3 linked regions of the Homo sapiens genome follow. The protein of the gene in region 2 interacts with the protein of the main gene of each other region in a pairwise test. Each region holds a gene or a part of one and is shown on either strand. Other genes may lie near its edges.

Region 1 (3,748 bases), on a different chromosome or scaffold from region 2:
TGTCCCCATGGTGGTGAGACCTTCTGCTTTCTGTGTGTTATAAGAACACATGTCATTGGATTTGGGGTCCACCTGGAAAGTCTTACGGATCTCGTCCGGAGATCCTTGACTTAGTCACATCTACAAAGACTCTTTTCCCCCACATGGTTACATTCACAGGTCCTAGGGGTTAGGACATGGATATGTCTTTTTGGAGGCCACCATGCGGCCAGCAATACCAACTAATCATATTCTAATAATGAGGACAAAACACCGCCTCACTCAGCACTTCCAATTCTGAGGCACAGGTGCCAGTATTATGCCCATTCTACAGATGGGGAAACTGAGGCTTAGAGATGGAAAGTCGTGTCCCCAAGACTTGCCCCCAGTGGCAGACACCCCGTTATTAAGATGTAGAGCCAGGATTCAGGTGCAGCGTTTGGAGTACAGAGCCCAAGAAGTTAAACTGTCTCTGTTCTGCAGTCCAGGTGCATGTTGGAGGACAGTTAGGGTGGCACAGGTTGAGATGAGGGACAGCATCACAGGTAGGGTGCATGGCTGGGTGAGGGTGCTGCCCTGGATCTGCCTGGGGCCTGGTAGCTGCAGCTGCTCATTCACCACTTATCAGAAGGGGAAAAGCCACCTTGTTCAGCCTCAGTTCTGTTCTCACAGGAAGAACTACAAGGCCTTATGCCAAATGTATGAGAAGATTCAGCCCCTTCTGGAAAACCTGCACCGGAACTTCACAGAGACTCGCAATAACATTGGTGAGCAAAGTGGGGTGGAGAGGGCTGGGCAGAGGGAGGGCTTGAAGCCAACCCTGCCCCCTTCTCAGCCACTTCCAGGGAGGGATGGCTCCAGGATCCTGGGAGTTGCTTTGACTTGTGCCTGGAGTTTCGCCAGCTGAACCTTGGTTAATCCACCCCACCAGTCTCTCCTGGGTGGCCCTAGATGCCCCATACCATGTTTTCCTGGGTGCATGATGTTCCTGCTGCCTGGTCTTCCTCTCTCCTTTCTTTGGCTTTGAATGAGGTTGGATTTGAACTGGACAGAGAGGAAGGGTGGGGGAGGACATTCCTGGCCGAGGGTACGGCCTCGTTAGAGGGTTGGAGGTGGGAAGAAACACAGACAGCTCAAGGTGTGGTGAGGAACTGAGCCTGGCAGGGGCTGATGTACCTTTCACAGCTCCCTCTCCCTCCAGGATGTCCTAGGGCCTGCCCATTGGGGTAGGGGAAGAAATTCACCCATAGACCTGCTGGATGTGATCTGGTGCCACCTACTTGCCCCTTGCTTCCAACCTAGCACGTGACATTCAGAAAATCTATGACAAAGATCCCCTGGGCAACGTCCTCATCGACAAGAAGAGGCTAGAGAAGATCCTGCTCCTGAGTTACGTCTGCAACACGCAGGCAGGTGAGCCTCAGCCTCCCCTTGTCAATGCCCTCCCAGGACCTGGCCCAACCTAAGCCAAGGGTCCAGGCTCTCCCACCCAGCCCCTCCTCCCCAACCCCCTCTTCGCCACAGAGTACCAGCAGGGCTTCCATGAGATGATGATGCTCTTCCAGCTGATGGTGGAGCACGACCACGAGACCTTCTGGCTTTTCCAGTTCTTCCTGCAGAAAACGGTGAGGGCAAGGCCTGAGCTCAGGGACGCCCCTCCCCAACCCCCCACTACTCCCCAAACAACTCTTTGAGGATGGGCAGGCATTGGCCACCCCAGCCATTCCTTCCAGGCTTCTGGGTCTCAGAGGAGCCTGGGAGGGTGACGCTAAACCCAGTGGTTCAAAGTAGTGGTGGTGGGGAGGCACTGAAGTGGAGAAGGGGGATGGAGCAAAGCTCTGGGTCCACCTCTCAACAAACCTTGAAAGAGCATGGCTGGCCAGGCCCAGGGAAGGTGCCCTCTCCTGGCATTTTCTTCCCCAAGCACGGTTCTCCTCCCTCCTCGCTGCTTCTTCCTCAATGGCTCCCTGTGGCCTCCAGAATAAAATCCAATAACCTTAGCCAGTCATTCAGGGCTGTTCCCTTCACATAACCTGAATTCCAGGCACACCAGGGGACTCAATAGTCCCCAGGGGCTCCCTCACTGTCCAAGTTGAGGGGTTTTGAAGGTGCAGCTCCCTGGAACACCTCCCTGGAAAGCCTTTCCTCATGATCTGCGAGAGGCTGCCCAGAACCCTCCCTCATCCCTCCCTCCACCCCACCATCCCTGCACATGTGCTTGCTGCCCTTCCCTTGTCCCAGTTGGCTCTGCCCCAACACTATTGTGTGAGGGAAGAACTGGGCAACTGGGCTCACTAGACTGTGAGCCACAGTTGAGAATCTCTACTACACACACATACACACACACACACACACACACACACTACACAGCCACCCAGAGGCGTACAACATATACAGACAAACTTGCATACACAGATCACAGTCACATAGATATGTATGCACACACTCACACACACACACTCAGACTCATAGAGACATGGGCCCAGCGCACAGACAGACACACAGAGCCTCCAGAAGTGAAGCTGGGGGAAGCAGAGTTGACTCTTCCGGTGCCTTGAAGCCAAGGGGGACTCAGTCTGTCTCCCACCATCGTGTGCAGGAACACAGCTGTGTCATCAACATTGGCGTGGCCAAGAACCTAGACATGCTCAGCACCCTGATCACCTTCCTGGACCCCGTGTTTGCTGAGCACCTAAGTGAGTGGTTCCCACCTCCTGCCACCTCACGCACCCCCCAGGCATGGGAAGGGGGCTGGGACCCAACTGTCAGTCCCTAATCATGGGGGGGCTGGAGAGCAGCAGAATCATTTGATTGCTTCTCCAGGCCCTGGGAAGAGGGTTATCTGGATGGGGTTGGAGCCTGGACAGTTGAAAGTTGACTCTAAACCATCTCCCAGGGCAGCTGGAAAAGGGGCGGCAGGCTTTTTGTATTTCCCAAGTGTTTTGCAGGCTCTGTAGTTTGGCCTCATCTGCATGTGTTTGCTGCATCATATGTGTTTTCCCCTGACCACAGCCTCACCTTCTCTCCCCACAGAAGGGAAGGGTGCAGGGGCTGTGCAGTCCCTCTTCCCCTGGTTCTGCTTCTGCTTCCAGCGTGCCTTCAAGTCCTTCGATGATGTCTGGAGGCTCTGGGAGGTGAGGTGTCCAGCTAGGGATCATCAGGCTGGGCTCCACCCATCAGGCAGAGTGGAAGCTGCAAGTCTTCCTTGCCTCCCCCTTTCTTCCTGGCTTGGATGGAGTTCAGTATCTCGGGGTTTTGTTAGGTCAGCAACCCTGCTCCCACCTTGCTGGAGGAAGCTGGAGCATCACTTTGTCCATATGTTCATTTAACACAAAGGCCCCACTGACTGTGCCTTCTGCTAGCAGTTGACACAGGAGGGCCCTATGGCCTGTGCAGTGGGAGCCTGGGCCTGCAGCTCCACTTCCCCGCTGCCCTGCCCAGGTGGCCTCCCCACGCTTTCACTTCCCCAGCTGTCCCCCCAACCCTGGCCTTCCCCTTCCCCAGAGTGCTGCTCCTGTGGAACTCTCTCACAGAAGGTGGGTCCCTAAGGACACCTGTAGTCCTGTGACCACAATCCTCAGGGCCATCAGCAGATGAACCCTCTGAGGAATGCCACCCCCACCCATCAATGCCCTGCCCATGGCCACCGCTGCCTGCAGTGTCCAGCCCAACCATCCACCTGGCATGTAGGGCCCCACAGATCTATTCCCACCTGCCTCTTGGCTGGCTGGTCTCCATGCCCAAGTCCATGACCACACCCAGGCCTTTG
Region 2 (3,748 bases):
AGGAACCTACAGGTTGGACCCTGAGGCCAGAGCTGGGAGTGGGGAGGGCGGCGGGATGGATGGGAAGAGCCACAAAAGACGGAAAGACACAGGGACACGGGTCCTCTAGCTCAATCACATCCCGGCCGAGGGGGAATAAAACGAAGCAGACAACTCATTCATGTTCCACTCGAGCCTCTTCAGCACATTTTTCCCTTCTGAAAATATTCCTTAACAAAGAGCTGCCTGCTTCTGGCAGGCCCCGACCCAGGTCTCAAATGCCAAGATAGAAGGAAGCTGTTTTGTTTTGGCCAAACACACTAGTTGTGGGTGAAAGAACTCTCGGGCTGTCAGGGGCCAGCTCTGAGGAGCAACCTGGACCGCCCTGCTGGCTCTGGCATTTGAGGCCAGTAGGCGTGATGGGGTCAGGAGGCTGGGGGCAGACTTCAGGACGGAAGCCAGGAGCTGTGAATCCTCTCCCTTCCCGCCAGGGGGTGGCATAAATCAGGGGGCGGGCAGTGGTTCCTTCGGGACACTAGTGTAGGAGAGAAAGTGAGCGTCCTTCCCTTTGAAAGGGCACAGCAGGGAAGGATGGATAACTTGGCAGAGGCCTGGGGCAGGTTCCCACAGGGGTAGGTGCTGGGGGATTCTGGGGCCCTGTCACCCTCCAAGGCTCCAGTGTGGGCGCTGGTTTGGTGGAGGGGCAAGTTGGCTTCCTGGGGTGCGGCAGGCACCTCATGGTCTCTGGAATCTCTGCTTGAGCTGGGGGAGCTGTCGGGGACTCTGGGAGGGCCTGGACAGGTGGGATCTGAGGAGGGGTGCAGAAGTGTTGAGTGGGTGGGGGCAGGGGCAGATATGCCTGGGGTCTATGTTGGAGCTCTTAAGTTTTTCTGTGTGTGCTGGGGGATCTAAGTGACTGTGTGTGTGTGTGTGTGTGTGTGTGTGTGTGTGTGTGTGTGTGTGTTTGGGGTTTTCAGAAAGATGGGTGGCTCTGGATGGGGAGTGGGGTGGTTCAGAATATCCAACGGGAGGTCTTGAGCATGGGTGGATTTTTCAGGATCCAGGAGCCAGGATCCAGATGGGGCAGGATCAGTGGAGCTACCACAGTGTGCTGGGTGGACGCCGGGGAGTGGTGTTTAGGGGTGCCCTTGGGCATGTGGCAGCTGGGGTGGGAGATGGGCTAGCAGGCTGAGCTGAGGGCTGTGGGCAGGGGTAGGAAATCCGACTTACAGAGGCCAGAGAGGGGTCCTGTGGGGTCAGCATGGGGGGCGGGTAGGCCCTGAGGCTGGTCTCCTTGGGGAGAGGTGGGGGCAGTTCTGGGCCCAAGATAGGAGGACGTGAAGTGAGGGGGTGCGGGGAGGGGGTGGCAAGTGTTGTCCAGAAGGGAGGGGTCCTGAGAGATCAGGGCAGAAGGTGGACGGGGGTTCTTGGGCTTGGGGGGCGCTTCTGAGGGGCTGATCGGCGGAGTGGGGGGATGGGGAGCCCTGAGGGGGTTCCCGGAGAGGAGTCCTGAGGGTCACTGCAAAGGGTGGACGGGGGTCCTGGGCCTGCGGGGTCCTCATGGGGAGGGGACGGAGTGGGGGAGGGGGATCCTGCAGGAGCTCCTGGGGAGGGGTCCGGAGGGATCGGCAACGAGGGTGGGCAGGGGCCAGGGTCCTCCGAAGGTCCCGGGCTGGGGATGCCGAGGCTCCCAGCGCGGGTTCCGGGGCACGACGGCCCGAGTTGCGGTCCTGCCGGTTCCCCGCGGGCCGCATCACGGAGCCGCCGGCCTGAGCAGGCGCCCGGGAGGCCCGGCCCGCGCCGCCCTACCTGCGCCGAGCGCGCCGCCATCTCCGTGCCGAGCCTCGCCGCCCCGGGCTGAGCCGCCGGATCCTAGCCGCGCCGTTCGCCCCGCAGCCCCGGCCCGGCCCCCTCAGCCGCCCCCCGGGACCGCGGCCGCCGCCGGCTCCGCCGCTGCCATTTCACCCGCTGACAGGAGCCGCTGCCCCGCCCCCGAGGCCCCATCCGCCAATTCGCCGCCCCCAGGCGCCCTGGCCCCGCCCACCAGCCAGGAGTGACGGGGTGTCTGACCATTCCGTGGCCATTCCGTGAGGCGGGCCCTGGCTACGTTCAGAAGGTTGCCGCCTCTGAGGAGAGAGCGAATTGAAATGAGGGAAGCGGTGAAGGACAGGTAGTTTTGCGTATCGGAATGAGGAATCCTATTGATCAACACCTGATAAGACCAATAGCAAGGAAAGTGGGGGTGTGTCCGTGAGGAAAGGCTGCGGCCCTGAGGAACACCAGGCAGACGCGGCCAAGCGTTTGGCACTAAGCCCCGCCCAGAGCCGGGCTTTCTGCCCAATAACGAGACGCCCCGAGACGTCCATTATTATCTGCCCCTCAAACCTGGGCCCTGGCAACTGCTGGGGGCGCCATAAAGAAGATTGACACCTAGGGAACCAATGCTACTGAAGGAGGGCGGGAAAGTGACACTCTCTGACCAATGGGTATGTGAGATTGGTGGGAGCATTGGCGTCCTGGGCGGTGGGGCTTGAGGCCTGGGTTGAATGAAATGGGGGTGGGGCTAAGAGGAGGGCGTGGCCTAGGCCAGAGATGGGGCGGGGTCAAGCAAGGGAGGGGCTCGGGGGTTGGGTCTGAGAAGGGGCGTGGCCAGAAATCCTGAAGACTCACTGGGGACGTGATGGCACCGTGTCGTCTAGGAGCCCAGTTCTGTGCTGGGGACGGGGCGGTTGATATTGGGGGCGGGTCCCATAAAAGATTCAGGCCCGTCCCCTGTCTTACTCCAGGCCAGGTTAAATGTGTTCTCTAAAGCTCACAGAGCCGCGTGTTTCTCCATCAAAGCTCGGTTCGCGCCGTGATCGTGGGGAGGGATAGGCCCTCCCATTCCCCATCCTCCCAGGCTGATAGATCCTCGGGGAGTCGGGATGCAGGGCCTAGGTCGGGTCTCTTCCAGGTCCCCAGCATGGAAACTGCTTATAAACATTTGATGAATGAATGAATGAAAATGGGCCCGTGACTCTTTTAACAGAGAAGGGAGAGGTGGAGAATCCTTCAAGCTAGAGAGGAATTCGTAGGGACAGTTACTGACAGCGGGCAAGACTGACCAAAATGGACTTATTTCCTCCCCAAGATGTAGGGATGGGCCCTGGAGGGGGTGGGGCAGGGAAGGACCTTGTCATAGCAGAGAGGGTGACGTCATAAGTGTGTTTTTATTTATTTATTTTTCAGAGACAGGGTCTCGCTCTGTGTCCCAGTTTGCAGTGCAGTGATGCGAACATAGCTCAATGCAGCCTCGAACTCTTGGACTCCAATGATCCTCCCGCCTCAACCTCCCCAGTAGCTGGGACTACAGGTGCGTGCACACCATGCCCGGCTAATTTTTTTGGTAGAGGCTGGGGTCTTGGTATGTTGCTCAGGCTAGTCGGAAACTCCTGGTGCCAGGTTCTCCCACTTCAGCCTCCCAAAGTGCTGGGATTACAGGCATGAGCCACCTCGCCCAGCTAGATGTCCTAAGTTCAGAATGGGGAAGGGAAGGCTGGACCCAGGGAGGGGCACGTCAGGACTTCCTAAGGTCTGAGAGCTCAACCTTCTCTGTAGTAGGAGACTCTGTGTGGCCTTGCAAGCAGTGACTGACATCCACGTATGGTCCCGGCCTCTGTCCAGCTCTCTCTGCCTCTCCCTCCCTCTTCCTGTCTATTTTGCATCTGCCAACGTTCTGGAACTGTTAATAAACCTCCCCAGGGTCCGGGCGCGGTGGCTCACGCCTGTA
Region 3 (3,748 bases), on a different chromosome or scaffold from region 2:
GAAGTGCCGTTTGCCTATGTGCACCAAGGACATCTGTGGAGTCATAGATTCCTCACAGTTGAGGTTCAGCTAAGAACTACTGACTTTATACAGATCACTATACACATCAATACACTTTGCAGAATGGCTGTTAGTAATGCAAACTTTGAAATAACCTCATTAGATAACTGTGAGCACGTAGGCTTCCATACCTGGTTTTAATGATTTTGAAATGCAGACAAGCCAATGGCACTTGGGCAAAGGGTGTTTTGTTCACTTCAAGTCAAGACTAATGATTCAGACAAATTTAAATGAACCCAAACGGTTTCATGAACCATGGTCAAGGCTTTGTGGAGAAATTATATATGTCTCTCTGTAAATGGGCCAATTGCTTTGTAAATATCACATATGACTTAAGCCCTCAGAGTGCAAACAGGAAAAGAGGCAGCCAGAGAGAAGGCATATATGAATTTATATGAATTCTGTGGGTGAGACTCGGGTTAGATCTACTTACTAAATTCCACTATAAAGAGGAATGGGCTTCTTTTTCAGATGCTAAGGCTGTCCTGAACTTCTAGAATAACTGGAATATGACATAAACCACCTTCTCTAAGATAAAGCCCTTCTCCACTTCAAAGCCAAGACTCATAAAGATATATCCTAAGGGTAAAGCCATTTCTGCAGTCAAGTGAAATGATGGGATGTTGGACTGGGTTTGAGTTCCTCCAAAAACGGCGTTGCTTTGGGGGAGTTCATCATAGGGACCACTTCTGGGGATTCCTTTATTTATATAAAAACCAAAAAGCATCTTTCTCTAAAGAGGACCAGCCCCTCAGGCCTTCTTTTCAGTATTTGCATATGGCTTTGAGGGTAGGACAGGTTAGTCTTTTTCCCCACCTTATCCCTGGAGCCCGGCCCAGTGCCCAGCATGTAATTCTAGAAGCAGTTTCTGATTGATTCAGGTTCCCCAACCCAAGGAACTCAACGTTTGATCAGCTCCCACTACTTTGTCTTTCCCTTTTCCAATTGCTTATGACCTCGGACACTCAGAACCACTGATGTGAAACCACCCACCTGGGTGCTCTCTCGGTGGTGACTTTCTGTTCAAGGGATCAAATAAATAATCAAATGGACCACTGATGACCCGCGACCTGCTGGGAGGCGAGGCTGACCAGTGAGGCTGGCAATACCATGTGAGTGGGCCCACCTGGGAAGGTTCCAAGTAGTGAGGTCGACGATGCTATCTTCACTCGTCAGAGGAGGAAGGGATGGGCTCCTTCTTGCAGGTGCCGTGCTTGGCTCGGTGTCGTTGGAGGTGATTGGACCTGGTGAAGGCCTGGCCGCAGTCCTCACACTGGTAGGGCCTCTCTCCGTTGTGCATTCGTATGTGCTGGGCCAACTCAGAGGCAATGCGGAAGGCCCTGCCGCACTCGGCACAGAGGAATCCCTTCTCCCCGGAGTGGATCTGTTGGTGCCGCTTCAGGGTCGAAGAGCGGGCAAAGGCCTGGCCACACTGCGTGCAAGGAAAGGGCCTCTCGCCAGTGTGGATGCGCTGGTGGCGCACGAGGCGCGAGGGCTGCGCGAAGGCCACGCCGCAGTCAGCGCACTTGAAAGGCCTCTGGCCGGTGTGCAGCGTCTGGTGCTCGGACAGATTGGAGGACTTGGTGAAGCACTTGCCGCAGGTGGGGCAGGGGAAGGGCCGCTCGCCCGAGTGCACGCGCTGGTGCTCCACCATGCGGCTGGCCACAGCGAACTCCCGGTCGCAGGCGGGGCAGCGGAAGGGCTTGGCGCCCAGGTGCGTGCGCTGGTGGCGCAGCAGCGACAGCGGCTTGTTGAAGGTCAGGCCGCACTCGGAGCACGGGAAGGGCTTATTGTTGCTGTGCATGTTGCGCTGGTGTTTGCGCAGGTCCGAAGAGCGCACGAAGGCCTTCCCGCAGTCTGGACACGGGTAGGGTTTCTCGCCTGTGTGGGTGCGGATGTGCTTCCGGTGGTCGGAGGACCAGGTGTAGGCCTTGTCGCAGAAGGAGCACTGGTAGGGCCGCTCGCCCGTGTGCAGGCGCCTGTGCTGCTGGAGTGTGCCGCGGTGGGAGTAGGCCTTCCCGCATAGCTCGCACGCGTAGCGCTTGGCGGCGCCGCCGCGCGTCTCCGCGGGGCTCAGCGGCTTGCTGGGCTTCTGAAAGGCCCGCCCGCCCCGCAGGCACCTGTAGGGACGCGCCTCAGCCTCTCCGCCCTCGCGCCGGCCCGCCTGGTTCTGTACTTTCCTGCTGTTCCGCGCTTTTGCCAGGACCGCGGCAGCCAGGCTGGCTGGGGTGGCCGACGCCTGGGCTGGTGTATGTGTCTCTTGCGTGGGAAGGTCCCAGTTGCTCCCCGGCCTGGGGAAACACAACAGAGAAGAGTTCCCTGCGGACGTGTCTACACTTTTGTGCGCACAGAGATACTTTCCATTGCTGGGGAAGCTGGGTGGGACATCCAAGACTGCGTCCTGGTTTGCCCCCGAGTATCCATCATCACCCGCAGGTAGTCGGTCCCCAAGAGGTTGCATCTGACCTAACAATTTGTGTGCGAGACCACTGGGAAGGGAACCCAGAGCTCTGCTTGCTCCCGGGGAACCCTGGGTCTCGTTGATCTTTGTCACATCTCTGCTCCAACTGGCTTTCCCAGACATTTCCACTGGTTTCTGCCCCATGCCCCCAGCACTGGAGGAGTCAGAGAATTTCTCTTCCTCTTTGCCCAGTGGATGGGGCCATGGCAAGTCAGGATTTTCGTGTGTTACTGGGGAGCTGCCCCTTGGACAGGCCACCGGGTCAGCGGTGCCCTCTTTTTCGGCCTCCCCACCATCTTCATCGTCACTCTCTAAGTTCATGCTCAGCATCTGGGTGTCATGAGCTTCCTCAGTCAAGCTGCTGAGAGGAGACGCCTCTCCCCACCTGTCCTGGGAGTCCACTTGTGCCATGATGTTCAGGCGCTTCTATTGCCTACTCCTCTGAGGAGGAGTATCCTGCTTGGCTCAGGATACCTGCAAAAAGAAAAGTACGAAGAGAAAATCACAAAGAATGTACTTAATCACTTTCATGAGCAGAGGGACTGAGGTTCCCACTATAGCTCTGTTTCCAACTGGTCTCCATGTCAGGCATATTGTTGAGCCTCACTGAGGACAGAGGCCTGGCTCTGCTGAAAATTCCAGTCATCCTATTCCCTCTGGAGATCCCACTTGCTATAAGCCCCAGGAGACCATGCTGTCAGGAATAGCCAGGGTGGGGCATTTGCTGGGTGCCAGCTGTGCCTTGTCCTGTCTAGGGTGCTCATCCCCAACCACTAACCAAATGTGTCCTTTGTCAGCATGGGGGACAACTCGATGAGAGGGTAGGAACCAAGCTGTGGTCCTCCTAAGACACTCTTACAGTGTCCCCCACTCAGGAAGCTGGAAACCAGGCTGGCTTTTGCTGTCCCTGCCAGGAATGGAAGTCTGCCATCCCATGATGGTGTCAGCTAGGGTTACCTCTCAGGCCCTGGGCTGTGTAGGCCACCTCTTCCAAAGATAAGGAGCAGCCCTTGGGAGAATGAGGGTGAGTCAGGAAGGCACCAGTTGCCCCTCACTGATTAAGCGGGGCTTCTCAGGCCCTTGTAACTTCTGAGGAACTCCTAACTGCCAGGAAGGCTACCCATAAGCACCCGGGGGCAGAGGATGCCCACTGAGAGCTTGACCTGTCTTTGAAATTTTGCTTCATCATAAACATTCAGGAGAGTTTACATTTTATGTCTCATTTTT

Evidence for each region.
Region 1: the proteins of EVI5L (region 2) and TBC1D21 interact in binary tests that used the Homo sapiens proteins (3 or more experiments, as listed by UniProt).
Region 3: the proteins of EVI5L (region 2) and ZNF648 interact in binary tests that used the Homo sapiens proteins (3 or more experiments, as listed by UniProt).

Annotation. Positions count from the first base shown.
Region 1 is NC_000015.10:73,883,500-73,887,247, forward strand, and holds part of TBC1D21 (TBC1 domain family member 21), read left to right. Parts: intron 1-651; coding exon 652-746; intron 747-1,281; coding exon 1,282-1,392; intron 1,393-1,503; coding exon 1,504-1,604; intron 1,605-2,578; coding exon 2,579-2,675; intron 2,676-3,012; coding exon 3,013-3,113; intron 3,114-3,748. UniProt on the Homo sapiens protein: Acts as a GTPase-activating protein for Rab family protein(s). Essential for the establishment of male fertility, and is required for both the production of normal sperm number and sperm function.
Region 2 is NC_000019.10:7,828,422-7,832,169, reverse strand, and holds the start of EVI5L (EVI5-like protein), read right to left. Parts: upstream 1,953-3,748; 5' UTR 1,789-1,952; intron 1-1,788. UniProt on the Homo sapiens protein: Functions as a GTPase-activating protein (GAP) with a broad specificity.
Region 3 is NC_000001.11:182,055,079-182,058,826, forward strand, and holds part of ZNF648 (zinc finger protein 648), read right to left. Parts: intron 2,996-3,748; 5' UTR 2,933-2,995; coding exon 1,226-2,932; 3' UTR 1-1,225. UniProt on the Homo sapiens protein: May be involved in transcriptional regulation.